4 linked regions of the Homo sapiens genome follow. The protein of the gene in region 1 interacts with the protein of each later gene in a pairwise test. Each region holds a gene or a part of one and is shown in the gene's direction. Other genes may lie near its edges. The genes, in order: CEP76, TCEANC, CWF19L2 and SPG21.

Region 1 (7,029 bases):
CAGCTAGACAGCTTGCTCTCAAGGAGTTTAGATTCTAGTGCAGGAGAAACAATAAGTCAGCAAACAAAATAATCAGATAGTAGAAGGTGTTTTATGGAGAATTATTACAGGTGATATGATACAGTGGTTATTGGGTGGCTAATTATAGGTCGAGTGACTAAGGTAGGGAAAGAGTCTGAACAACAGGAAGTAACCAGCCATGCAAAGATTGGGGCTGAGCTTCCAGCACTGGGAACAGCCTAGAACAAAAGCCCCTATGGAGGACCGAAAGCCCTGTGTGGCTAGAGCGTAGTGGGTTGGGGAGAGAGGAGAAAATGAGATAGTCGGGCCAGAGTTCATAGGCCAGGGCAGGTATTTTGCAATGTGATGGAGAATGAAGTGTTTTAACAAGAGAATGACAGTATGTTTTTTTTTTTTTTGAGATAGAGTCTCACTCTATCGCCCAGGGTGGAGCACGGTGGCATGAACTCGGCTCACTGCAACCTCTGCCTCCCGGGTTCAAGCAATTCTCCTGCCTCAGCCTCCCGAGTAGCTGGGATTACAGGCATGTACCACCATCCCCAGCTAGTTTTTGTATTTTTAGTTGAGATGGGGTTTCACCATGTTGGCCAGGCTGGTCTCGAACCCCTGACCTCAAATGATCCACCTGCCTTGGCCTCCCAAAATGTTGTGATTACAGGCGTGAGCCACCATGCCCGGCTTGTATGATTTACTATTTAAAAATTTCTGGGCCAGGCGCGGTAATCCCAGCACTTTGGGAGGCCAAGGCGGGCGGATCATGAGCTCAGGAGTTCAAGACTAGCTTGACCAATGTGGTGAAACCCTGTCTCTACTAAAAATACAAAAAAAAATTTAGCTGAGTGTGGTGGCACGTGCCTGTAGTCCCAGCTACTCAGGAGGCTGAGGCAGGAGAATTGCTTGAACATGGGAGGCAGAGGTTGCAGTGAGCTGAGATCTTGCCACTGCACTCCAGCCTGGGCGACAGAGCAAGACTGCATCCTCCACAACCAAAAAAAAAAAAAAAATTCTGTCTTTGAGGAAAAAAAGGTGACTTATGATTATTGTATGGAGATGGGATTGTACTAGGGGTAAGTGTAGAAATAGGGAAGTCAGGAGGCTCTTATAGAAGATGATGATGACTCAGATTAGGGTGGTAATGATGTAGAGAAGTAGATAAATTTGCTACATATTTTGTAGTAATTAAAGATAATGAATAGAAATTGAAAAATATTTTTTTCAATTTCAAGCTTGCTTTGGAACGTCAGAAAACTGCAGAGAAAGAGCGATTATTTCTTGTATATGCTAAGCAGTGGTGGAGAGAATATTTGCAAATTCGACCCTCACACAACTCACGACTGGTTAAGATTTTTGCACAGGTTTGTAAATTATATTAGAATAATTTTATGCCTGTATTTGAGATTTACTGTTATGTGTGTAAATTTCATTTAATATTTATTTGTAAAATGTATTCCAAAAAATAAAAGTGTATTTGTAAAATAAAATGCTGATTTTGTAATATTCTCTTTCACTGCATAGTGAGTGGCAAGATCAATCTATGTCTTATTTTACTTTCAATTTCAGTTATTGTGGGTTTTTGAAAAATCACCTTTCTCAGGTTGAATCAATTATTGTGTTTTAAACCCTTTCTGAATATATTTGATTTAAAGTAGATGAAAATCCATTTTGTTTAACTTGGAATGTGTATTTGCTTGATACTTAGTGCTAAATAATTAACCATTTGGACACTTTGCAGGTTATATGTAAATCCAGCTCTTGTGTGCAGAACGGGGGGGGGCTCTGGGCATATATATATTTTTTGTTAGGGTTTTAAAAAAAATTGTATATAACCACGACTTCTAAGCCAGTGACCAGTAATGTTTAACTGAAGCATTTCAACTATATATCTCTGCCTCCATTTTTCCTGAGTCCTAAACCCATTTTCTCTCTTTAACAGACCAATATAAAATATATGGTCAGGTCAGCTAGGCGCGGTGGCTCACGCCTGTAATCCCAGCACTTGGGGAGGCCGAGGTGGGTGGATCAAGAGGTCAGGAGATCGAGACCATCCTGGCTAACACGGTGAAACCCCGTTTCTACTAAAAACACAAAAAATTAGCCGGGCGTGATGGCGGGCTCCTATAGTCGCAGCTACTCGGGAGGCTGAGGCAGGAGAATGGCGTGAACCCGGGAGGCGGAGCTTGCAGTGAGCCGAGATCGCACCACTGCAGTCCGGCCTGGGCAACACAGCAAGACTCCGTCTCAAAAAAAAAAACAACAAAAAATGTGGTCAGGTTCACGTATTTTTTGTAACTCCTAAGGAACAGTTCAAATATTTTGTATATATTCAGCCTCATACAGATGCTTTCATATAAGTATAGTGTAGTATATTATTTTAAGTTAAGTTTCTCAAATCCTGTACATTCATCCAGCTTTACCCTACTTTCCCTAGATTTTGGAACAGGCTAAAAGTGGTTTAGTGTCCAGATGGGGAGCTTGGGAATGAGAGGTTGACTAGAGGTGGGAATAAGGGAAATGGCTTCTGACTTTCTGATAGCGTTGTTTATATATTGAATGACTGGTTGGCAAGGTAACAACATTATCAGGACAAAGGCAAGGAGAAACCAATCAAAATGTAACTGGCTTCCTGGCCGGGCGCGGTGGCTCACGCCTGTAATCCCAGCACTTGGGGAGGCCGAGGCAGGTGGATCCTCTGAGGTCAGGGGTTTGAGACCAGCCTGGCCAACATGGCGAAACCTTGTCTCTACTAAAAATACAAAAATTAGCCAGGCTTGGTGGCAGGCACCTATAATCCCAGTTAGTCAGGAGGCTGAGGCAGGAGAATTGCTTAACCCGGGAGGCGGAGGTTGCAGTGAGCGAAGATCACGCCATTGCACTCCAGCCTGGGCAACAGAGTGAGACTCTGTCTCAAAACAATAACAACGACAAAAAATATACATATATATATATATAAACTGGCTCCCTGCTGTCTATATAGTCTGAGGCATTTATTCATTGCCACGTGGAATTAGGAACTAGAGAGGACTCAGGATGGAGTGAGGCAGTGAATCAGAGAAATGGCAGGATCAAAGAGGAGGAAGAAGTTGAAATGCACTAAGGAAGTCAAGGAAGTGGGATTTTCTTTTAGGAAATATTACTTAAACGACTTCCTCTCTCAGAATTCATTTTAAGATTTGAACCATAGAACGTAATTTAGTCTCATAGTAACCATATAAGATTGTCAAGTGGCCAGGCATTGGCTCTTTTTGTAAACAGTATGAAGGTTAGAGAAGTGAACAGTCTTTTCAAGGCCAAACAGCAACTCAGTCATGGCAAAGTCTGTGTCAAATTGGAGTTTCAACTGGTGCCTTTTTGGTTTATGCCACCTCTTTCCATATACATAGAGTAAATAAAATGCTGATTTAATTTAGATTCCTCAGAACTGTTTCTTGCTGCTTCCTGTATTTGACTAGTTCTGAAATTAAACAACAACAGTGTAAAACAGTCAATCTAATTATAAAAACAATAGTTATAAATCAAAACGTTAATATACATATCCAGGCCAAAAAAATTTCTAATGTATCCAGCACTGAAAGTAAAGTAAAGAACTTTTTTTTGTTGTTGTTGTGAGACAGAGTCTCAGTCACCCAGGGTTGAGTGCAGTGGTGCGATCTTGGCTCACTGCAACCTCCACCTCCCAGATTCAAGTGATTCTCCTGCCTCAGCCTCCCAAGTAGCTGGGACTACAGGCACGTGCCACCATGCCTGGCTAATTTTTTGTGTTTTTAGTAGAGATGGGGTTTCACTGTGTTAGCCAGGATGGTCTCGATCTCCTGACCTCATGACCCGCCCGCCTCGGCCTCCCAAAGTGCTGGGATCATAGGCGTGAGCCACCACACCTGGCCAAGAACTTTTTGCAATGATGGAAATGTTCTGTATCTGTGCTAACCAGTATGGTAGCCACCAGCCATGTACTGAGCATTCAAAATGTGGCTATTATGACTAAAAATAATTGAATTTTAAATTTTAATTAAAATTTAAATAGCTCATAATGGTTAGTGATTTTCTCACTGGACAGTGCCCATTCAGAGGTTGAAATATTAACTTTTCAAAACAGTTAAGTAGCTTGTGGGGATATATTTAGATAATATTAGAATATTGCTGTAATAAAATGATATATCTTACATTCTAAGATGCTACTATTGATGATTGACTTAGGCAAATGCTTCCACTTCTTATGTGCTCATCTTTTCTTGCCTGTTAGTGGATTTGTAAGAATAGGAGTAACAGTCCTGCACCTCAATACTAACCAAAGATCTGTAGATTTGCCGTGGCCATTATACTTAAAAATTCATTATTCTTTTTACCCTTTGTTAGCTGGTTTTGCTATAGTATAGTAGTAATTCATTGAATGATGCTTTTTGAACTTTTTAGTGCAAGAAACTTTAAAATAAGTTACAGAAATTGAACTTTAAGGCCACTAGGTTTTGTTTTTTTTTTTTTTTTTTTGAGATGGAGTCTCGCTCTCGCCCAGGCTGGAGTGCAGTGGCACGATCTCGGCTCACTGCAAGCTCCGCCTCCCAGATTCATGCCATTCTCCTGCCTCAGCCTCCTAAGTTGCTGGGACCACATGCCTGGCTAATTTTTTTTGTATTTTTAGTGGAGATGGGGTTTCACCATGTTAGCCAGGATGGAATTGATCTCCTGACCTCGTGATCCACCCACCTTGGCCTCCCAAAGTGCTGGGATTACAGGCGTGAGCCACCGTGCCCAGCCTAAGGCCATTAGGTTTTAAGAAAATGTTGTAAATCACTTGAGGATTGAGGATATTCTTTTAATATTTAGTTTGTGATTTCAGGACTTAGTATTCTTATACCACACTAGATTATTAGTAATGCTAAGTTCATGTAAAAGAAAACCATAGTTCTCTACATCCCCCCAAAATTAGAATAATAATCCTCTGTTTTAAAAATCGGTGCCCTCTAGGCCAGGCACAGTGGCTCACACCTGTAATACCAGCACTTTGGGAGGTCGAGGTGGGCGGATCACTTGAGGTCAGGAGTTTGAGACCAAGCCTGGTCAACATCGTGAAACCCCATCTCTACAAAAATACAAAAATTAGCCAGGTGTGGTGGCACATACCTGTAATCCCAGCTACTCAGGAGGCCGAGGCACAAGAATCGCTTGAACCCATGGGCGGAGGTTGCAGCGAGCCGAAATCACACTACTGCACTCCAGCCTGGACAACAGCGAGACTCTGTCTCAAAAAAAAAAAAAAAAAAATTGATGCCTTCTATAGTTGAGAACTATAGGTATGAGTGGAATCTATAGCCAAGTTGCTCTGCAACATAAAAATTAATGATCTTTCTCATTATAATCAAATGTAAATAAGTGAGTTTTTTTTTCCTTGCTAAAGTATGGGACTATATTGGAAAAAGATGTTCTGGTTGTGGAGAAAGACATCAGTGGTTCTGATAATTCAAACAGATGGTGTTTCTTTTGGCTGGGTTAGATCTCATGTCCTGAGGAACCCTATCAGGGAGGGTAGGTCATCTCCAAATCTTGAATAGTAAGTGGCCCTTTCACAGTGCCGTATCAGTAACCATGAAGGTAAAGAGATTGTGGACTTTGGTAATACTCACTGTAAAATCACAGTGGTAGACAGTCATCAGAGACCTATATATGCATACAAGTTATTCAGCACCAACACCAGGAGATATCCTGTATTTAGGATGTAAAACTTTTTCTAGAGTGTTTTTTGAAATTTTGCTTTCAATTGACTTGGTTAACAAATTATTGTTTCCTGTGGATCTCTAAATTTGAGGCCCTAATGGAAACAAACTAGAATCAAGCTACAATCATTTCTGTTATATCAGCCAATCAGAAGAGTTATTTGTTCTGTCTGGCTATATGTTGTTAAATTCTATATGGTAATGTGAAAAAATACTTCAGCTTAGAGCACCTCTCCCTCCCCTACATACCTACCCACACATTTCTCAGAGGAGTTCTTATTGCCACAGCCTTTGGAGTAAAACAGCTCAGAGCTTGAACCTGGCTCTGTTGCATAATAGCTGTAGCTCCTCAGTTTTCATCTATAAAATGAAAATAACGGAGATGAGGATTAAGGGAAATTATATACACAGCACTTTGCAGCCAAATACTGGATACAAGGTAAGCACTCGATCAATGGTATGCTGAATTATTTTATCCTACATTAATGTATTTGAAAAAAACATAATTGGGGATGATTAATATGTCATTACAGATGTTTTTCCCCTTTTCCCTAGGATGAAAATGGGATAAATAGACCAGTCTGTTCCTATGTTAAACCACTTCGAGCTGGACGGCTTCTTGATACTCCAAGGCAAGCAGCAAGATTTGTTAATGTCCTTGGTTATGAACGAGCCCCTGTTATTGGAGGAGGAGGTAAACAGGAGCAGTGGTGCACTCTGCTGGCCTTTCTCTGTAGAAACAAGGTATTATACACACATAATAGAATTAAGTAGCAGTATATCATAGTTACTCTGAATTTGTAATCCATTTGTAAAAGAATGCCTTAGAAAAATGCACATATAGTCAACCCTCTGTACCCACAGGTTCTGTATCTGTAGATTCAACCAACTGCAGATCAAAAATACTTACAAAAGTAAAAAATTACAATAATAAAAAATAGTACAAATTAAAAAATGGTGTGTAACAACGTTTATGTAGCATTTACATTGTATTGAGATTTTTAAACAATTTAGAGGTGATTTAAAGTATATAGGAGGATGTGCTTAGGTTATATATAAAATACTATACCATTTTGGCTGGCCGCAGTGGCTCATGCCTGTATCCCAGCATTTTGGGAGGCTGAGGCAGGTGGATCACCTGAGGTCAGGAGTTCAAGACCAGTCTGGGCAACATGGTGAAACCCTATCTCTACTAAAATACAAAAAATTATCTGGGCATGGTGTCGTGTGCCTGTAATCCCAGCTACTCAGGAGGCTGAGGCAGGAGAATCACTTGGACCCTGGAGGCGGAGGTTGCAGT
Region 2 (7,029 bases), on another chromosome or scaffold:
GCTGTCCAGATGATGGCGAGCCCAGATAGGGTTTGGTGCCATCCTGCGTGTGTTTCCCCTAGCAGCCAGTGTCTGTCCATGTTGAAATTCCACATGTGTTGTAACTGGCCAGTTTCTTGTCAGTATTACTCCCACTAGGCTATCAGCTCCTTCAAGGCAGAGACTGTCTCTTTAGGCTCAGCATCTAGCACATACTCAATCCCTAATATATATTTATTGAATGAACTATGTAGAACTAAGCTGGACATATGCCTTACCTTGTCTTTTTATGGCAATTGTCAGAATTTTGTATTTCAATGGCTTCCACATTATACCCTCCTAGGGCAATAAATCCTTTATATCCACATGATGGTCCCACAGAGGACTAGAAAGTTTGACTGGATTTAAATCCTGTTAAAAATGTGGAAGGGAATGGAAAACAATACAGTGGGTCCTCAAAAAATTAAAAATAGAATTACCATATGATCCAGCAATTCCATTTTTGAGTATATACTCTGAAGAATTGAAAGCAGGGTCTCAAAGAGAGATTGGTATACCAGTGCTCACAGCAGTGTTATTCACAATGGCCAAAAGCCAGAAGCAACTCAAGTATCCGTTGACATTTGAATGGATAAACAAAATGTGTTATGTATAGACAATGGAATATTATTCATTCTTAAAAAGGAAGAAAGTTCTGACACATGCTACAACATGGATGAACCTTGAGGACATTATGCTAAGTGAAATAAGCCAGTCACAAAAAGAGAAATACTGTATGATTCCACTCACATGAAGTACCTAGAGTAGTCTCATCCATAGAGACAGAAAGTCGAGTGGTGATTGCCAGGGGCTGGAGGGAGGGAAGAATGAGGAGTTGTTTAATGGGTGCAGAGTTTTCAGTTTGGGAGGATGAAAAGAGTGCTGGACATAAGCATCTTGATGGCAGGGACTGTGTCTTTTCAAAAATCCATGGGCTCTGTTTTATAGCACTTGATATTAAATAATCACCACCGAACATACACAGGCTAAGAACACTGAAGTGTTTAGAGAGAGAATTCACACAATCTTCCCAGACACCATATGACAAGTGACATAAAACATATTTACCTTTTAGTAATTCTACTTCTGTGAATTCACTTTAAGGAAACGAGAGATGTGGAGACCGCATATGTACGCATTTTCTTCAAACTTAGGAGAAACTGGAAGGCCCCAAATAGGAGAATGATTAAAAACTATCGCAAACTCCTAGGATGATCCAATAACATAACCATTTAAAAATCGTGTTTTTAGAGAATATTTAATGATGTGGAAAAATAGTCCTAAAGCTAAGTGAAAAAAAATCAAGATGCAAAACTATATGAAAGATTAAACAGTTATATAATCCAGCAGATTCAAGATAAATGAAAACATATGTCCATGCAAAAACTTGTACACAGGCCGGGTGTGGTGGCACATGCCTGTAATCCCAGCACTTTGGGAGGCCAAGGCAGGTGGATCACCTGAGGTCAGGAGTTCGAGACCAGGCTGGCCAACATGATGAAACCCTGTCTCTACTAAAAATACAAAAAGTAGCCGGGCGTGGTGGCACATGCCTGTAATCCTAGCTACTCAGGAGTCTGAGGCACGAGAATCACTTGAACCCAGGAGGTGTAGATTGCAGTGAGCCAAGATTGCACCACTGCACTCCAGCATGGGTGACAGAGCGAGACTCCATCTCAAAAAAAAAAAAAAAAAAAACACACACACACTTGTACACAAATGTTCATAGCAGTATTATTCATAATAGCCAAAAATGGGAAATAATCAAAATGTCCATCAACTGATGAATGGATAAATAAAATGTGGTTTATCCACACAACATAATATTATTCTGCCATGAAAAGGAATGAAGTACTGAAAATGCTACAACATGGATGAACCTTGAAAACGTTATGCTGAATAGAAGAAGCCAGATACAAAAGACCACATACTGTATGATTTTATTCACATGAAATGTCCAGACAGCAAATCTATACAGACAGAAAAAAGATTAGTTGTTGACTTGGTGGGGTGGGACAGAAGGGCAGTGGAGTGAAGAAAGAGGAGTGGCTGCTAAAGTGCAGGGATTTTCTTGGGGGGTGGTGGCACAGATAAATCTTCTAAAGTTGATTTATTTGTGGTGATGGGTTACACAACTGTGAATATACTAAAAGCCACTGAATTATACACTTTAGGGGAATTGTATGGTATGTGAATTACATCTGAATAAAGGTGTTATTTAAAAATAGAATCTGGTCCAAATTTTACTTAAGAATTACATATGGAAAGACTGAAGAGATACGCAAAATTTTAAAGAGGGGCATTTTCTGAATGGTGAGATTTTAGGTAATTTTCATTTGTTCTTTTACTCTTTTCTGTATTTTCTGTGATGAGCATGCATTGTTTTCATAATCAGAAAAGTTATTGGTCTAATATAATTTCATGATAAACTGTATACATTTAAGATACTGAAAAATGGTATGGTGAGAAATGAATCAATCACCTTCTACCCACCTTCCCTCTGAAATGTGAATATCGTCTCTTAAGAGTGGCTATATCACCTGTGGCTTTGCATTCAGATAAGTATTCATAATTGCCTCAGAAATCGATTACTGCATCTCAAACAGGTGCATCTCCCCTCAAACTTTATCCCCAAATATGAAGAGTTAAGTACCCTTACATAACCAAGAGTCTGAGTCCTACATTTTTAACCACCAGAGGGAGCTGGAATGTAGAAAACCTGGGGCAGTCAGTTTTGTTTTGTTTTAAAGTTAGTTTCACAAAGGGCCATCAATTCAGGATCTTATGTAATTTTCCTAATTATTGTGAACCAGCACTTAAAAGATAATTCTTTTTTGCCTTTTTAAAATTCCACTTTTAAAGACTGCATACAGTAAAAGAGGTCTTCCTAAGAATCAAACTCTTAATAAACAACAGGCAAGACAGCACAGAAAAATAAAAAATATTCACACCCTCTATTAGCGAACATTTCTCTCAGAATTGTCTGCTTCAGATCTTGAAGTCACGCAGTTGTGTCACAGTGATAAAGTTTCAAGTTATTCAATATACTTGAGCCCTCCCCGACTCGTTGAAAAGTTTCCTAACAAAGAAGAAACATTCAATGTGCCTGCATTCTATATGCATTACTATTGAAATCAGGATGGAGGTTTGCTAGGCATTGAGAAAGATGGTGAATAAGAGATGGGCCTACAGCGCCCAAAAGGAAGTTAAGCAATATTTGACTCAGGTCAGAATTTCTCAACTGAAGGTCTGAGTTTCAAGGTAATTCTTAAAGGGAATTGTAATTATAGCTTCGGGGTTTCAGTGGGGTGAAAGCAGCAATTTGTCTTACCAGCAAAATGAGTAAATCTATAGAAGTTAATGTATTTATGTATAAACAACCAAAAAGCACTTTGCTCTTCATTTTATATGTTCTTTTATTGACCTTTTCTTCATATTTCTTTAAAAAATTTTAATTGTGATAAAATATACAAAACATAAAATTTACTGTGTTAAGCCCTTTTTTTTTTTTTTTTTTGACAGAGTCTCGCTCTGTCGCCAGGTTGGAGTGCAGTGGCATGATCTCGGCTCACCGCAAACTCTGCCTCCCGGGTTCAAGCAATTCTCCTGCCTCGGCCTTCCGAGTAGCTGGGACTACAGGTATGCGCCACTACATCCAGCTAACTTTTTGTATTTTTGGTGGAGACAAGGTTTCACCATGTTGGCCAGGATAGACTCGATCTCTTGACCTCATGATCCACCCACCTTGGCCTCCCAAAGTGCTGGGATTGCAGGTGTGAGCCACCACGCCCAGCCTGTCTTAAGCCTTTTTAAGTATACAGTTCAGTAGTGTTATGTACATTCTCGTTCCAGAGGGGAGGTGGGTAGAAGGTGATTGATTCATTGCTCATACCATTTTTCAGTAGGTATATCTTAAGTGCATATAGTTTATCATGAAATTGCGTTAGACCAATAACTTTTCTGATTATGAAAGCAATACATGCTCATCACAGAAAATACAGAAGAGGAAAATAACAAATGAAAATTACCTAAAATCTTACCATTCAGAAAATGCCCCTCTTTAAAATTTTGTGTATCTCTTTTCAGTCTTTTCACATGTAATTCTTAAATAAAATTTGGATCAAATTCTATTTTTAAATAACACCTTTATTCAGATGTAATTCACGCACCATACAGTTCACCTAAAGTGTACAATTCAGTGTTTTTTAGTATACTCAGTTGTATAACCCATCACCACAAATAAATCTTGAGAAGATTTATGTGTGCCACCACCTCCCAAGAAAATCCCTGAACTTTATCAGCTGCTCCTCCTCCTTCACCCCACTGCCCTTCTGCCCTACCCTACCTAGTCAACAACTGATCTATTTTCTGTCTCTATAGATTTGCCTGTTTTGGACATTTCATGTAAATAAAATCATACAATATGTGGACTTTTCTGTCTGGCTGCTTCTGCTCAGCATAATGTTTTCAAGGTTCATCCATGTTGTAACTGTATCAATACTTCATTCCTTTTCATGGCAGAATAATATTCTGTTGTGTGGATAAATCACATTTTATTTATCCATTCATCAGTTGATGGACATTTCGATTATTTCCCATTTTTGGCTATTGTGAATAATACTGCTATGAACATTTGTATACAAGTTTTTGTGTGGACATATGTTTTCATTTCTCTTGGATCTGCTGGGTCATATGATAACTGGTTTATTCATTTATTTATTATTATTTTTTTTTAGACAGAGTCTTGCTGTGTTGCCCAGGCTGGAGTGCAGTGGCACGATCTTGGCTCACTGCAAACTCCGCCTTCCAGGTTCATGCCATTCTCCTGCTTCAGCCTCCCAAGTAGCTAGGACTACAGGTGCCCGCCACCACACCCGGCTAATTTTTTGTATTTTTAGTAGAGATGGGGTTTCACCATGTTAGCCAGGATGGTCTCGATCTCCTGACCTCGTGATCTGCCTGCCTCGGCCTCCCAAAGTGCTGGGATTACAGGGTGAGTCACCATGCCCGGCCCATATGTTAACTGTTTAGTCTTTTATATAGTTTTACATCTTGATTGTTTTTCACCTAACTTTATGACCATTTTTCCATGTCGTTAAATATTATCTAAATACATGATTTTTAAATGGTTATATTACTGTATCCTAGGAGTGTGCCATATTTTTAACCATTCTCCATTTAACCATTTGAGGGCCTTCTAATTTCTCCTTAGAAGAAAATTCTTACATATGCAGTCTCCACATCTCTCATTTCCTTAAAGTAAATTTATGGAAGTAGAATTACTAAAAGGTCATTATGTTTTATGTCACTTGTCATATGGTGTCTGGGAAGACTGCGTGAATTCTCTCTCTAAACACTTCAGTGTTCTTAGCCTGTGTATGTTCGGTGGTGATTATTTAATATCAAGTGCTATAAAACAGAGCCCATGGATTTTTGAAAAGACACAGTCCCTGCCATCAAGATGCTTATGTTCACATTTAGACCAGACAGATAAATATAGATCCAAGGGTATTATATAGACAAGATTATGTACATTATGTGGAGGGAAAAAATAGACTGCATAGATAAAAGTAAACATTTGCCTGCCTAGGATGAAATTCACACAGACATAATCATTGAGCAACTCTTTACACTTAAAAATTTTTTAAAAATTAACAAAACCAAAATGTAAGAACCAGTTAGTCTAAAGTCATAAATCATCTGGATCATTGAGTCTGAACCTTTCCCTTGTTCAGAAGACTCCTAAGGCAGCACAGTGTAGCCTGTTGGCTTTTGGGACCCGCAGACGTATCTCTAGCTGCTTTTCAACCTGTGCTGTCTCACATTTTCCTTAGATTGCTTGAGACATTAGCAAACCCTTTCTGTCTTGTTTCTCTTTTATTTTCAGAAGAGTACCACTTTAAAGATTATGAAATGAGCAAGTAGTTCAGTTATATAGCTGACTCTGGGGAAAAATTGTCTAGCACTGTTCAGCATTGCCATATTGATGCTGACACCGGCATGATTTCACCTCCAACATGACCACCGGATTCCGCCCAAATGGATTGACTAATCTAGAAAGATCATTGATTTGTAAAATTGGAGGTGGAAAAGCTATAGCAGATCCTCCGGCAAGCCTCTTAAGCAGATGTTATGTAGAGGCTCTGCAATGCTGTTTGTTTGTTTTTCACTCGTAGGAATTAAACTCTTGAGAGTAAACCATACCGTCACCTTAAAGATTCCATTTTCTAGCGTGTCGCATACATTTGTATTACATGACTCTTTCGGAAAACATTGCCTAGGTAACTGACAGAAAGTGCTATTTTAGTATCCAGAAGCTGCGACTAGCAACGGCAAACTTAAGAAAACTGAAACCTCTTTTTTCTTTGCAGCTGTAAAGATGTCTGACAAGAACCAGATAGCTGCCAGAGCTTCTCTTATTGAGCAACTGATGTCCAAAAGGAATTTTGAGGATCTTGGCAACCACCTTACTGAGCTAGAAACAATTTATGTGACTAAGGAGCATCTCCAGGAGACAGATGTGGTCAGAGCTGTGTACAGAGTCCTCAAAAACTGCCCCTCTGTGGCTTTGAAAAAGAAAGCCAAGTGTTTGCTATCAAAGTGGAAAGCTGTTTATAAGCAGACTCACTCCAAAGCGAGGAACAGCCCTAAATTATTTCCTGTGAGGGGTAATAAAGAAGAAAATTCAGGACCTTCTCATGACCCAAGTCAGAATGAGACACTGGGCATCTGCAGCTCGAATTCTCTGTCTTCCCAAGACGTTGCAAAACTCAGTGAAATGATTGTGCCTGAAAATAGAGCCATTCAATTGAAACCTAAGGAAGAGCATTTTGGGGATGGTGACCCTGAATCCACTGGCAAGAGATCGAGTGAGTTGCTGGATCCCACAACACCCATGAGAACTAAATGCATAGAGCTTCTTTACGCAGCTTTAACTAGTTCTTCCACAGATCAACCCAAAGCTGATTTGTGGCAAAACTTTGCAAGAGAAATTGAAGAGCATGTTTTTAC
Region 3 (7,029 bases), on another chromosome or scaffold:
AGAAAAATATTTATTTTTATATTTTAGAAGTCATAGAAGCAATACATATTAATTGTATGATAACCACATTAAAAGTATAACTAATATTTAATACTGGAATTTAGTTTCAGTGGTAGAAGATGGTGGATTAAGCTGGCTAAGGAAATCTTATCTAAGAATGAAGGAACAAGCTGAGAAACAAAGTAGAAACTTTGAGGACATTGTAGCCGAAAGATATGGGGTGAGTATCTGTTTTAAGGAGATGCCTCTTATTTTCAGAATTAGGTGAAAAATTAAGTGCCTTTAGCTTTGTTTTGTGCCATGAAGAATTGAATTAATATTTCATGTCTTTATACTACTGAAGTAATTTTCTGCTTTTCATTATTATTAAACATGTATCATATTTTTATTGACATAATGAATGTAAAGCTTAAGTATATAAAACTTAAATGTGGGTGTGTTTAATGTAAAAAAAATTTTCTTATTGTGAGAAAATTTAAACAATGCCGGAAAGTCTGCATGGTACACTTCTGGAGGTAACCACTGTTGAAATTTTTTATATTCCAGAGTTAGGTATATTCTAGAGTTTGGGTACTTTACGGATTTTTTTAAAAGAGTGTATATATACTCTTAAAACAATGAAACTGTGCAACAGTATATATTTTAGAACCAGTTTCCCCATCGTTCTGGACAATCTTTCTATTGCAGTAATTACTGATATTCTTTTTTTTCTCTTCAATTGCCGGGGGAAAGCAGGTTTAGAAAGTAGTAAGATTTCTGGAATATATTTTTCCAGATATTTTCCCCCAGAGTTTTAAAGTAGACTCGTAGAATATGCCCTGGCTTTTTAAACTTAATAATGTACACATAGTTGGATGCCAGTAAATATATACATTTTAATGACCTGTTAATTTTTTTAATATATTTATAGGCTTTTCCTTTATTTATTGGTCAGTAGATGACCATTTATATGCTTTTCCTTTCCCTTGTTAGATAGCACTGTGCTGACTGTCTATGCCCAATGCATTTTGCATATTTTTCTTGTTGGTGAATTACTAAAAGTGAAATTGCCTGTTTAAAGGATATAGACATTTAAAGCAAGGTACATATTGCCAGATTTCTCTACAGAAAGAATGAGCAAATCATACTTAAAAATATCTCTTTTATCACATAATTTTCAACAGTAAGATTAGTTCTTATAGTTCATGCTGTTGTGATTGGCAGAGTTTTTAAGTTTTGCTTTTGTTTTTATACATTTGTTTACTGGTGAATTGGAATTTTATTTTTATTTTGAGGTGGAGTCTTGCTCTGTCACCCAGGCTGGAGTGCGGTGGCACGATCTCAGCTCACTGCAACCTCTGCCTCCTCGGTTCAAGTGATTCTCTTGCCTCAGCCTCCCAAGTAGCTGGGACTGCAGGAGCACACCACCACGCCTGGCTAATTTTTGTATTTTTAGTTTTTAGTAGAGACAGGGTTTCACCATATTGGTCAGGCTGGTCTTGAACTCCTGACCTCGTGATCTGCCCACCTTGGCCTCCCACAGTGCTGGGATTACAGGCGTGAGCCACTGCGCCCAGCCGAATTGGAATTTTTTTACATTTATTTTGACCATTTGTATTTTTTAGTGAATTGACTATTGATATTGTTTTCCATTTTTCTTTTGGGATAATAATTTAAGACTTTTTAATAAATCTGTTCAGATTTCTCCCCCTCGGCTTGATGTTTTTTACTTCGTTGATAATTTGCTATGGATAAGTTTTAAATATTTTTACCTATCAAAATCCCTCATATTATTTTTTCATGAATTAGTGCTCTTGGTATAATTTATTGACAGGCCTTCCCCACCCCACAATCGTAAAAATATGCAGCTGTACTTACTTGAGTGCTTGTTCAGTTTTATTTTTTATGTTTTATCTTTAATTTTTCTGGAATATATATTTGTGCATGGTATGAAATAGGCATCAAACTTTGCATAAGTCTTATATAGTTGTTTGCTATATATTGAATGAATTATTTTTTCTCACTAATTTGAAATGACACATTTGTTATACATTAAATTTTCTCATATACATGGGTCTGTTCCTTTACTCTCGGATCTGTTTCATTGATTTTTCTATCTTTTCCTGGAATTTGTATCATACTTTTCTAATTATTGTGGTTTTCAGTAAATTATGCAGATAGCAAATAATAAACACCTACTATGTGGTAGTCACTATGTGATAAATCTCTTGTTAGTCACCAAAAAAATTAGCTTTGCTTTCTTATGTGTTTAGTTTTCTTAGTAAATTTAGTTTAAGCTCAATAGAAATAAATATTTTTCCAAAATTTGTTATAAATTTACGACTCTTTTTGGAGTTTTTATTTAAATTTAACTAAATGTATAGATAAATTAAGGACAACTAGTATCTTTATAATATAGAGTCATCCCATCCCAAAACACTATTTATTTATGCTCTTCAGTATTTTTCTCTGTGCAGTTATTATGCATATGCCATTGAGGTTATTTTTATTTTTTTATATTATAAATTGAATTTTAAAAATGTTTTCTGACTTGGTGTTGGTGCTGGTCGGCCAATTCTTTAAACTTTTATTATCCTAATTTTAAAAATTTTGGGTTATGTGGAAAGGTAGTTATATGCAAATAATTATTTTGTTTTTTTCCTCTCTGTTAATACTTAAACTTTCTTTTCTTCTTGAAATAGTTATAATTTTAGAACTTTGATAACAGGATTGGAAGCTGGTATTGCCTTTTTGTCTAAAGACAAAATAATGACTTTTGCATTTAAGATTAAGAGTATCATGTTTAAGTATCCTTATATTCAAAGTTGAGTAAAAGGTACTTTTTTGTTTTTTTTTAATTTTATTTTTTTATTTTTTATGTTGTATATGTTTAAGGTATGTATTCCATGACGTTTTGATATGCATGGGGAAATAATTACTAGAGTTAAGCAAACTAGTGTATCATTTATCTTACGTAGTTATTCTCCTTTTTTTTTTGTGGTAAAAATACCTAAAATCTACTCTCTTAGCAAATTTTCAGTATATAATGTGATATTATTAACTGTAGTCCTCATACTGTACATCGTATCTCCAGGCTTAGTTATCTTACATAATGGAAACTTCTGACTCTTTGACCTCCATCTTCTCATCCCCTCTCCTTCCAGTAACCACCTTCCTACTTTCTGTTTCTATGTATGATGCATCTTTTCCTTGAAAATTGTTTTAAAGTTTGCAACTACAAGAACAGTTATTTAGACTTGACCATTGCATTTGACATTTGGTTTTTAGCATCTGTTCTTTTTTTCAGAGATCTTTGCCCGAATTCATTGATGGTGTGTCTTAATCATCTTGAGTAATTTTTTTCCCTCAGAATTGCTAGTGATATGCCCTCTGATTCCCTGCATTTTTGAAAATGATTTTCTTTGGCCCATACCAAGGAAGGATAATTTGACTGTGAATTGAATTCTCTATATAGAATTATAGCTTAATTTTGTTTTCAAAATTTAATCTTCATTCTATTATTTACTTATTATTATGGATGAACAGCTGTAAGTCTGTCTTTCCTTTGTGGATAATTTGTTATTTATCTACCCCTATCCATATACAGGCTCACACTTATTCACTCCTTCCCTGATCTAGTCCTTGTAAAGGTTTTTTTTTTTTTCCTTGAGTTTTGAGATTCAGGTATTAGGGTTTTTTTCTGTGTTTTTCTTCTTTCTCCCCCACCCAAGGCTATTGGATGAGTCCTTCTGAGAAATCGGCTGGGGAAATTTTCTTATATATTTTTAAAATTAATGCTCTATTCCCATCATCTTTGCTCCATCTTTCTGGAAGTACTAATAAATGCATATTAGATTTTCTAGAATCAATTGTTCATGTATCTTTTTTTCTTATAACTTACATTTATTTACTACCTTTTCCTAAAATATAGAGAATTCCCAGGTTAATTTAGTTTTCAGCACTGTCTTTTCTTCCTTTTGGTGTATCTTGGCAGCTTTTTGGGACACACAATTTTTTATTTCCAAGTCTTTCTTGTTCTTGAACTATTCTGTTTTTTTTTTTTTTTTTGGTGAGAATCTGTTTTAGCAATTTAACCTCTTGAATCTCACAACCAGTAGGAATTAAGTATTTTTTGCAAAGTTTGTCTCTACTGTTTTCTGTGTTATACTTTGTGTTAGTGCAGAGTGTTTGGTGTAACTGGCTATCCTTTTGGAATCTTTTTGTTATTTAATAATTTTTAATTGTTTACACATTTTTAGAAAGTATTCGTTTCCGTATAGGATGATTGTATGGGTCTTCTTTCACCCCGTTAGTGGGCTTTTCAGTGTGCCACTTGGCAGTGAGTCATACAGTGACATGTGGGGTGCAAGTCACTGAGCCGTTCCTAATTTTAGATATCTTGTTTAATTTTTCTCCTTTGTAGTCAATGGAAATATTTCAGTCAAAATTAGAAGATGCTGAAAAAGCTGCATCCACGAAAGAAGATTATAGACGGGAACGGTGGAGGAAACCCACATATTCAGATAAAGCACAAAATTGTCAAGAAAGTAGAGAATCAGACTTAGTAAAATATGGTAACAGTTCAAGGGATAGATATGCTACAACAGATACTGCAAAAAATAGCAATAATGAAAAATTTATTGGTGATGAAAAAGATAAGAGACCTGGGTCTTTAGAAACGTGTAGAAGAGAATCTAACCCAAGGCAAAATCAAGAGTTTTCTTTTGGCAATTTGAGAGCTAAATTCTTGAGACCCTCTGATGATGAAGAACTGTCATTTCACAGCAAGGGCAGAAAATTTGAACCACTTAGTTCATCTTCAGCATTGGTAGCTCAGGGCTCTTTGTGTAGTGGTTTTAGAAAACCCACCAAGAACAGTGAAGAAAGATTAACATCATGGAGTCGCTCTGATGGGAGAGGAGACAAGAAACATTCAAATCAAAAGCCATCGGAAACCAGTACTGATGAACACCAACATGTTCCAGAAGACCCAAGAGAAAAATCACAAGATGAAGTCTTGAGAGATGACCCTCCAAAAAAAGAACATCTACGGGATACAAAGTCTACATTTGCTGGGTATTTTATCATTTTTTAACCTAATAAGTTAAGATCCAGAGAGTTCAAAGAACAGAACTGTATTTTTAGAACATCAGTTATTAGCTGTGACTATGATCTCACATTTCTTAAAATTGATAGAAGGGGTAAGATATGCAGATTTAACAGGCAGTATTGTGGTATGGATTGCATTTTATTTCATAGGTTTTTTTTTTTTTAAGAGCTGAAAGCAGTAGCTATATTTGTTCAAAATATGTTGCTGCTTTGCAATTTAAAAAACTGAATGAGTTAATGTTTTAAATGTATGTGCTGCAGGAGATATTTTGGTAGATTTTGTTACCAATGCCATTACTTTCTAAGGAAATTATCTTATTGTTGAGTATAATCATAATCATAAATACTGCATGTCTATAGGAAGTCTAGGAGACAAAAGGAAAACACGCTGCCACGGCCCAAATATAAAGTGACAAATACATGCCAGAGATCTTGCAGAGGGGAGCATGAATTATGGTTGTTATTTTGCACAAAGAAAGAAATAATCCACTTTGGGCAATTGACAGATTTTAAAGATAATATTAGAGTTTTAAATATAAAATATATGTTGCATTTATGTAGGGCTGGGTTAGAAGATGAGGAAACCCAGGTTGAATGGGACTAAACCTAAGAAAATTTGCTTTAGAAATTTGCTGGCCCTGTTGGAGATAGCCAGAAAAAAAAGTGTCCAAAGGGTAACAACTTACACGTGAATGATCATTAAAATATGTTTAAAAATAGCACCAAATGAGTGGGACACTAAAGGAAGAGGTTTTAGGAAATAATAGAAACACATGGTTGTAGTAGATAAAAGCACTGTGGTTTGGGGTTGTGAGTCTGATAAATCACTTTTGTTAATGACTCCATCTGAAGCAGTGGATTATAAAACTCAGTGTGTAATTTTCGGTGGGAGGGAGCTGGCAAAATCTGAACTGAGTGATTAAGCCCCAGTCAAATGGACTCTGGTTCACATCAGGGCTTTCCTCCCAGGAAGTGGAAGGAGAAATCCAATTGTATTGACTAAACAAACATGGCAGGGATTATTGTCTAAGGCTGTATGCATATGTAATTGTCCAGTCTTCACTCCAGGTGCCCTGGGTGGTAGACTATTTCCAGTTCCCAGTCACTAGGGGAATGAGGCTCTTATTTCCTGATATCATTAGGATTGGGTTAGCATTTGGATGATCTGTAGGCCTTCTTCTGTGACTGTAGCTAAGCAAAATGTCTGCAAAGTAATACCACACGATTAGTATTCCAACCGGTTGTCTGATTGCTGCATATTTGTATGTCTTATTTAAGTTGTAAGCTTCTGATAGATACACTATAATACAGGCACTCACTAAAAGCTGTGTATGTATATAATTTTTCGGTTTGAAGACAGCACTCACTAAAAGCTATATATGTGTGTATATATATGTATGTATACATGTAATTTTTCCTTTGAAGACAGTATTCTTTGTTCGCTGTGTTAATTTGATGGTACAGAGGGTTTGAGGCTTTCTATGAATTCTGTGACTGGCTGGAGAGGGAAAGAAAAATCTAGGAATCATCCAAAAAAAAAGATTCCTGAGAATGTAGAGTGGTTGTAAAGTAGGAGACCAAGACAGGACCTTGAAGAATGCCTAGTTGTTACAAATAATCTTTGTCTTATAAGTGAATGGTCATGATTGGAAAAATTAGTTGAATTAGTTTTTACTTCTTTGTATGTATTGTTCATATATCTTTACCTTTCTTGTTATTTACACCAGTATTATTTTTTAGAACATGCCATTTGTAATCTTAATAAATGTATATGTATAAAATTTAAACAATATAGACAGAAGAGTATAAAACAAGAATATGAAGCATAGGTGAGTATAAAATGAAAAAGTAAATCTCCCTTTCATGTCACTTCCAACCCTAATCCTATTTGCCAGGTTAACAGTGTTGGTAGTGTCTTTCCAAATTTTTTAGTGTATTTGA
Region 4 (7,029 bases), on another chromosome or scaffold:
CTCTGGGAGAAAGGTGTGTGGGAAAGGCACTCTTCCTGGTGACTGATTTTTTTTTTTTTTTTTTTTTTTGCATGCTTCCACATTGGTCAGGACATTGGTCTCCTAATTTTCCAGGAAGGAGAGAGTCTCTTTAGCTGGCAGTCGCCTGCAGTATTCACTTGTAAGTGGTACTCCCAGTGGGAGTACTGCTGTTAGTGTACGTTTTATTTACTGTTTAAAGGGATGAAAAGGCAGGTCACGTCTCTCCTTTTGGAAGGTAACTGAAAATTCTACTGAGGTTACCACCAACTGAGGCCACACAAAGGAAATCAGTTCCTCTTCCTCCTGAGAGCCCGTCTCTTACTTGAGAAAACAGTTATCATCACTACCTGCTGCTTTTCTCCTGGGTCTTTTCTTCTCTGGCTTAATTTCTCCAGCTTCTTTAACCATTCCTCACGTGACATGTTTGAGCCTCTGCAACATAATCCTCCTTTGTTCAGATTTTCAGTCATTCCTCTTCACAAACAGCATTCTAGAACAGGGTGGGAACTGCCCTCATCCCAGCCCTCTGCAGCCTGAGACATGACACTACCATTTTTGGTGGCCCCTGTTGATCAGCCAGGGAGGGGGAAACCGAGCAACCCATAGGCGCCCGTCCCACTCGGGAGTGCTGTCCAGCAGTGTGTTTCTCGCTCCACAGTGGCAGGTCATGAGAGCCTTGGCTTCTGGCTGGATGTTTCTTCTTCACTCTCAAGGTTCTTGTTGTGCGCTTTCCCTGTTTCATTAGGAGGAGAGTTAATCAAGAAAAGGTCAACAGTGTCTTCAAAATTATTTTGTCATCAAGATGTGATCAGAATGTTCAGCTCCATGAGGTTTTGGAACTTATTTAATATTTGTTAGTATCTAGCAGTTAAAATGCACAGATCTTTTTAATTTAAATTTTTTTGTTGTTGTAATTGTAGATTCACATGCAGTGTAAAAAATAGTAAAGAGAAATATACCTTTTACACATTTCCCCAGTTTCTGCCGAACCTTTGCAAAACTGTAGTACAAAATCACAACCAGGATATTGATATTACTACAATCTACCAATCTCATTCAGGCTTCCCCAGTTCTGCTTGAACTCATTTGTTTGTATGTATTAAGTTGCATATAATTTTGTCACCTGTGTGGGCATGGATATTTATAAATTAAAGACTCCATGAAAGTATCATCCCCTTTCTTTTAGGCTATCATCTGACTCAAATTCTCAAACTTTCTGCTAGGTAGAATCAGTTCCCCATTCTTTCTTGGAATGGTGGAAGTCTTATCCACAAATAGAATTTTAATAATGAAAGTCATACATCAAATCTAAAATGATTCCATAATTCATATGGCAGTATCCATTCCAGTGATTCATCAATAACAAAATGAACCTAAGTGCTTAAACAGTAAGCCTGTTAGACGAGGTTTTTGGGGGAGTTTTTTTGTTTTTGTTTTTGTTTTTTGGAGATGGAGTCTCACTCTGTCACTCAGGCTAGAGTGCAGTAGTATGATCTCGGCTCATGCAACCTCCACCTCTCAGGCTCAAGCAATTCTCATGCCTCAGCTTCCCCAGTAGCTGGGATTACAGGTGCCTGTCACCATGCCTGGCTAATTTTTGTATTTTTTAGTAGAGATGGGGTTTCACCATGTTGTCCAGGCTGGTCTCGAACTCCTGACCTCAAGTGATTCACCCGCCTCGGCCTCCCAAAGCGCTGGGATTGCAAGCGTGAGCCACCACGCCCAGCCAGTTGGTTTTATATGTATATAAAAAAGGAATTCTTGGCCAGGCGCGGTGGCTCACGCCTGTAATCCCAGCACTTTGGGAGGCCGAGGCAGGCGGATCACAAGATCAGGAGATCGAGACCATCCTGGCTAACATGGTGAAACCCCGTCTCTACTAAAAATACAACAACAACAAAAAATTAGTCGGGTGTGGTGGCACATGCCTGTAGTCCCAGCTACTCAGGAGACTGAGGCAGGAGAATCGCTTGAACCTGGGAGGTGGAGGTTGCAGTGAGCCGAGATCGCGCCACTGCACTCCAGCCTGGGCGACAGAGCGAGACCCCAGTTCAAACAAACAAAAAAAAGGAATTCTTAGGGGACAAACCTGAGTCCCTTAGAAATGAGTTTGTGACTTGTACTTCTTTTTCCTCATCATTGCCAGCATTAATAGATAGGCTACGTATAGTCAAGTACCATACTTCTTTTGTCACAAACAGAAGTACAGTAGCCTGGCATGGTGGCTCACACCCGTAATCCCAGCACTTTGGGAAGTTAAGGCAGTTATATTGCTTGAGGCAGGCAAATCGCTTGAGCCCAGGAGTTCAAGACCAGCCTGGGCAACGTGGCAAAACCCCATTTCTACAAAAAAGTATACATATAAAAATTAGCCAGGCATGGTGGTGCATGCCTGTGATTCCAGCTACCGGGGGGCTGAGGTGGGAGAATCGCTTGCACCCAAGAGGTTGTGGCTGCAGTGAGCTACAATCGTGCCAATGCACTCCAGCCTGGGTGAGAGAGAGTGAGACCCTATCACAAAAACAAACAAGCTGGGTGGAGTGACTCACGCCTAAAATTCCAACACTTTGGGAGGCCAAGGCAGTTAGATCACTTGAGGTCAGGAGTTCGAGACTAGCCTGGCCAACATGGCAAAACTGTGTCTGTACTAAAAATACAAAAATCAGCTGGGTGTGGTGGTGGACATCTGTAATCTCAGCTACTCAGGAGGCTGAGGTAGGAGAATCGTTCAAACCCGGGAGGCGGAGGTGGCATGAGTCGAGATCGCGCCGCTGCACTCCAGCCTGGGCAACAGAGGAGACTCTGTCTCAAGAAACAAACAGACACCCCAAAGTACAATAAATGAAATAGAGTAACTAAGTCATTTAAAAGAAGAGGAACAATTTTACTGAATACCCTCTTAAAGAAATGCTACCAAAAAGAGAGGAAGCTCTCCTTAGAACAAATTTTGTTTCCATCTCTCCTGAGCCATAATTCTGAATGAAATTAGATTTAAGAGAAAACGGTATTTCTTTACTGGAATGGGTTCTGCTGTATTCATCCTTGAACCCCAGACTTTTTCAGCTATTTAGAAAGGAAATTGATGGGAATTGAAATTGTTACTCACGTAATATCATTAGAGTGTGCTTACTTTTTATACTCTTTTAATTTGGTCTGTTAGAAAAATGTGAAATATGAAGTTTAGTAAAAAGTGAGAGCTTATTTTTACATATTTTGAATAAGGAGCAGCGCTTGAGCAAACGAGAAATGTCAGTGTTTGAGTCCTAAGTTTTTCAAATACGTGAGTTGCATTTTTACTTTTATGATTTTTAAAAATAAAATTATCGTTATTATTTCAGTTGCAGTATCCAGTTTATTGGGACCATCTCGAGTTCTGTGATGGATTCAGAAAACTTTTAGACCATTTACAATTGGATAAAGTGAGTACCCTGAAACTAATTACATACATACAATTTTTTTTTTATTTTTTGAGATGAAGTCTCACTCTGTCACCCAGGCTGGAGTGCAGTGGCGCGATCTCGGCTCACCGCAACCTCCACCTCCCGGATTCAAGTGATTCTCCTGCCTCAGTCTCCAAAATAGCTGGGATTACAGGCGTGTGCCACCATGCCCGGCTAGTTTTTGTATTTTTAGTAAAGATGGGGTTTCGCCAGGTTGGCCAGGCTGCTCTCAAACTCCTGACCTCAAGTGATCCGCCCGCCTCAGCCTCCCTAAGTGCTGGGATTACAGGCGTGAGCCACCGTGCCGAGCCCTCTTTTATTTTTTAATAATAGCTTTATTGCAACATAATTCATATACCATATAATTTACCCTTTTAAGTATACAGTTCCATGTTTTTCAGTATACTCCCAGGTATGTGCAACCATCACTGCAGTCAATGTTTTATAATTTTTTTAATGCCAAAAACCTCATATTCATTAGCAGTCGGTCCTCATCTTCCCCCCTACTAGCCCTGCAACCTAATTTATTTTTATCTCTATGGATTTGCCTATTCTAGATATTTTACATAAGTGGAATCGTATCATATGTGGTCTTTTTGACTGGCTTTTTTTATTTAGCATTGTGAGTTTAAGGTTCATTCATGTTGAAGCCGGAATCAATACTTCGTTTCTCTTTACAGTTAAATCATATTTTTATAAATATGCCATATCTTGTTTAACGATTCATCAGCTGATGCACATTTGGGTTGTTTTTACCCTTTGGATATCATGAATAATGCTGCCATGAACATTCATGTACAAGTTTTTGTGTTGACATATGTTTTCAGTTCTCTTAGGTATGTGTTTAGGGGTGGAATTACTGAATCACAGTTTTCTTAGACATAAACCACTAAGTGGTTTTGAGTTTTTTCTTTTTTTTTTTTTTTGAGACAGGCTTTCACTTTGTTGCCCAGGCTGGAGTGCGGTGGTGCAATCATGGCTCACTGCAGCCTCAACCTTTTGGGCTCAAGCGATCCTCCCACCTCAACCTCCCAAGTAGCTAGGACTCTAGGCACGTACCACCATGCCTGGCTAATTTTTGTATTTTTAGTATACAGGCCTTTTCCATATTTCCCTAGCTTGGTTTTGTTGGTTTCTTTTTTTCTTTTCTTTTTTTTTTTTTTTTTAAGACGGAGTCTCGCTCTGTTGCCCAGGCTGGAGTGCAGTGGTGCGATCTTGGCTCACTGCAACCTCCGCCTGCCAGGTTCAAGCGATTCTGCTGCCTCAGCCTCCCGAGTAGCTGGGACTACAGGCACGCACCACCATGCCTGGCTAGTTTTTTTGTATTTTTAGTAGAGACGGTTTCACCATGCTGGCTAGGCTGGTCTCGAACTCCTGACCTCGTGATCTGCCTGCCTCGGCCTCCCAAAGTGCTGGGATTACAGGTGTGAGCCACCGTGCCTGGACTGGTTTTGTTTTCTAATGCAATCTGTGAATGATATTTTTTTTAATTATATAACTTGGATGCCAAGTTGTATTATCTTGATGGACTGTATAAATTGCATTTAAATACAATATTTTCTAAATTTCTAGCTGCTGTAAATATTTTAGTCTATTGGCTAGTGATAACATATTCTGTGGTTAGTGATAATTGAAGCAACTTTTTAATACTCAGGTTCAAGATTGATCAGTATTTCAGAATCTGCCTTATATTTGTTTATAATTAGGTTCATCTTTTTGGCGCTTCTTTGGGAGGCTTTTTGGCCCAGAAATTTGCTGAATACACTCACAAATCTCCTAGAGTCCATTCCCTAATCCTCTGCAATTCCTTCAGTGACACCTCTATCTTCAACCAAACTTGGACTGCAAACAGGTAAGAACAAAATTACTTTTTTTGTTCAGTGAAATTTTGAAAATGTTGGCTTTTGAGTGTTTGGTACATTAGGAAGGGAAGACTTATATCTACTTCTATATTCTGCAACTTCCTTGGCTTTTTTTTTGAGACAGAGTCTTGCTCTGTCACCCAGGCTGAAGTGCAGTGGTGCAATCACAGCTTACTGCAGCCTTTATTTCCCAGGCTCAAGCGATCCTCCTACCTCAGCCTCCCAAGTAGCTGGAACTACAGGCAGGCATGCATGGCACCACACCTGGTTAATTTCTGTATATTTTTGTACAGATGAGGTTTTGCCATGTTGTCCCATGCTGGTCTCTAACTCCCGGGCTCAAGCCATCTGCCCACCTTGGCCTCCCAAAGTTCTGGGATTACAGGCATGAGCCACTGTGCCCGGCTCTTTCTTGGCTTTTAAAATTAGAAACAATTACCTTTGCAAAAGGAAAGAATTGAATGAACTCTAAATTCAGCTTTTTTTATTACCTTAAATTTTTAAATTTTGTTTAATATTCATTAATATACTTTTGCTGTTTTTATTCAGTATTTCTATGTAACTAATACCATGTTCTGTTTATCCCACTTATTATTATGTGTAAACAGTTCCGTGTATTGACTGACATAGTTTTATTAGGCATTTGGCTTTTCCCAATTCTTCATCACATTCTACAGTAAATCTTTGTACAAATTACTGGGTTTTTTCCCTTTCCAATTTATTTCCTTGAGATATGTTCTCCAAATGGAAAGAATAGAGCATTTGGTCTGTCAACAGATGTTCTGCACATCATGACCCTTGATATTAGTCTGTTCTTCCAAAAGATAGAAATGGTGGAAATGAGGCTGGGTGCGGTGGCTCACACCTGTAATCCCAGCACTTTGGGAGGCCGAGGCGGCCGGATCACCTGAGGTCGGGAGTTCGAGACCAGCCTGACCAACGTGGAGAAACCCTGTCTACTAAAAATACAAAATTAGCTGGGCAAGGTGGCACATGCCTATAATCCCAGCTACTCAGGAGGCTGAGGCAGGAGAATCACTTGAACCCAGGATGCGGAGGTTGTGGTGAGCCGAGATCACGCCATTGCACTCCAGCCTAGGCAACAGGAGCGAAACTCCATCTCAAAAAAAAAACAAACCAAAAACAAAATGGTGGAAATGCTTTGGGTGCAGCCAGTGGGGTACTTGTTTCCTAGGAGCCATCCTTTCATTGATTTTATCATTTTAAGTAATTGGTAGGTATCTATGATGCCATACAGCTGGCTTACTGTGCACTTCTTTCATTGCTGGCAAGGCGAGGCTCTAGCCTTAAAATAAAGCCCAGTGGCCAGGTGTGATGGCTCATGCCGTACTCCCAACACTTTGGGAGGCCAAGACAGGAGGATCACTTCAGGCCAAGAGTTTGAAACCAGCCTGAGCAACATAGTGAGACCCCATCTCTACAAATAACAATAATAATAAATTAGCCAGGTATCATGGTATGCACCTGCAGTCCTAGCTACTCAGGAGGCTGAGGCAGGAGGATCGCTTGAGCCCAAGAGTTCAAGGCTGCAGTGAGCCACAACTGTGCCTCTGTACTCCAGGCTGGGTGACAGAGCAAGACCCTACTTCAAAAAAAAAGCCCAGTGAGTAAACACATCTGTATGATCAGTGTTTTCAAATAATGTATAGGGAAATATCGTTTTCACATCTACTTAAAATTGCACT

The links.
Region 2: the proteins of CEP76 (region 1) and TCEANC interact in binary tests that used the Homo sapiens proteins (3 or more experiments, as listed by UniProt).
Region 3: the proteins of CEP76 (region 1) and CWF19L2 interact in binary tests that used the Homo sapiens proteins (3 or more experiments, as listed by UniProt).
Region 4: the proteins of CEP76 (region 1) and SPG21 interact in binary tests that used the Homo sapiens proteins (3 or more experiments, as listed by UniProt).

What each region holds. Positions count from the first base shown.
Region 1 is NC_000018.10:12,685,706-12,692,734, reverse strand, and holds part of CEP76 (centrosomal protein of 76 kDa), read left to right. Parts: intron 1-1,247; coding exon 1,248-1,376; intron 1,377-6,284; coding exon 6,285-6,473; intron 6,474-7,029. UniProt on the Homo sapiens protein: Centrosomal protein involved in regulation of centriole duplication. Required to limit centriole duplication to once per cell cycle by preventing centriole reduplication.
Region 2 is NC_000023.11:13,656,112-13,663,140, forward strand, and holds part of TCEANC (transcription elongation factor A N-terminal and central domain-containing protein), read left to right. Parts: intron 1-3,540; 5' UTR 3,541-3,575; coding exon of another isoform or gene 3,576-3,657; intron 3,658-4,919; 5' UTR 4,920-5,011; intron 5,012-6,389; coding exon of another isoform or gene 6,390-6,397; coding exon 6,398-7,029.
Region 3 is NC_000011.10:107,426,825-107,433,853, reverse strand, and holds part of CWF19L2 (CWF19-like protein 2), read left to right. Parts: intron 1-104; coding exon 105-220; intron 221-4,402; coding exon 4,403-5,055; intron 5,056-7,029.
Region 4 is NC_000015.10:64,972,886-64,979,914, reverse strand, and holds part of SPG21 (maspardin), read left to right. Parts: intron 1-3,359; coding exon 3,360-3,440; intron 3,441-5,167; coding exon 5,168-5,313; intron 5,314-7,029. UniProt on the Homo sapiens protein: May play a role as a negative regulatory factor in CD4-dependent T-cell activation.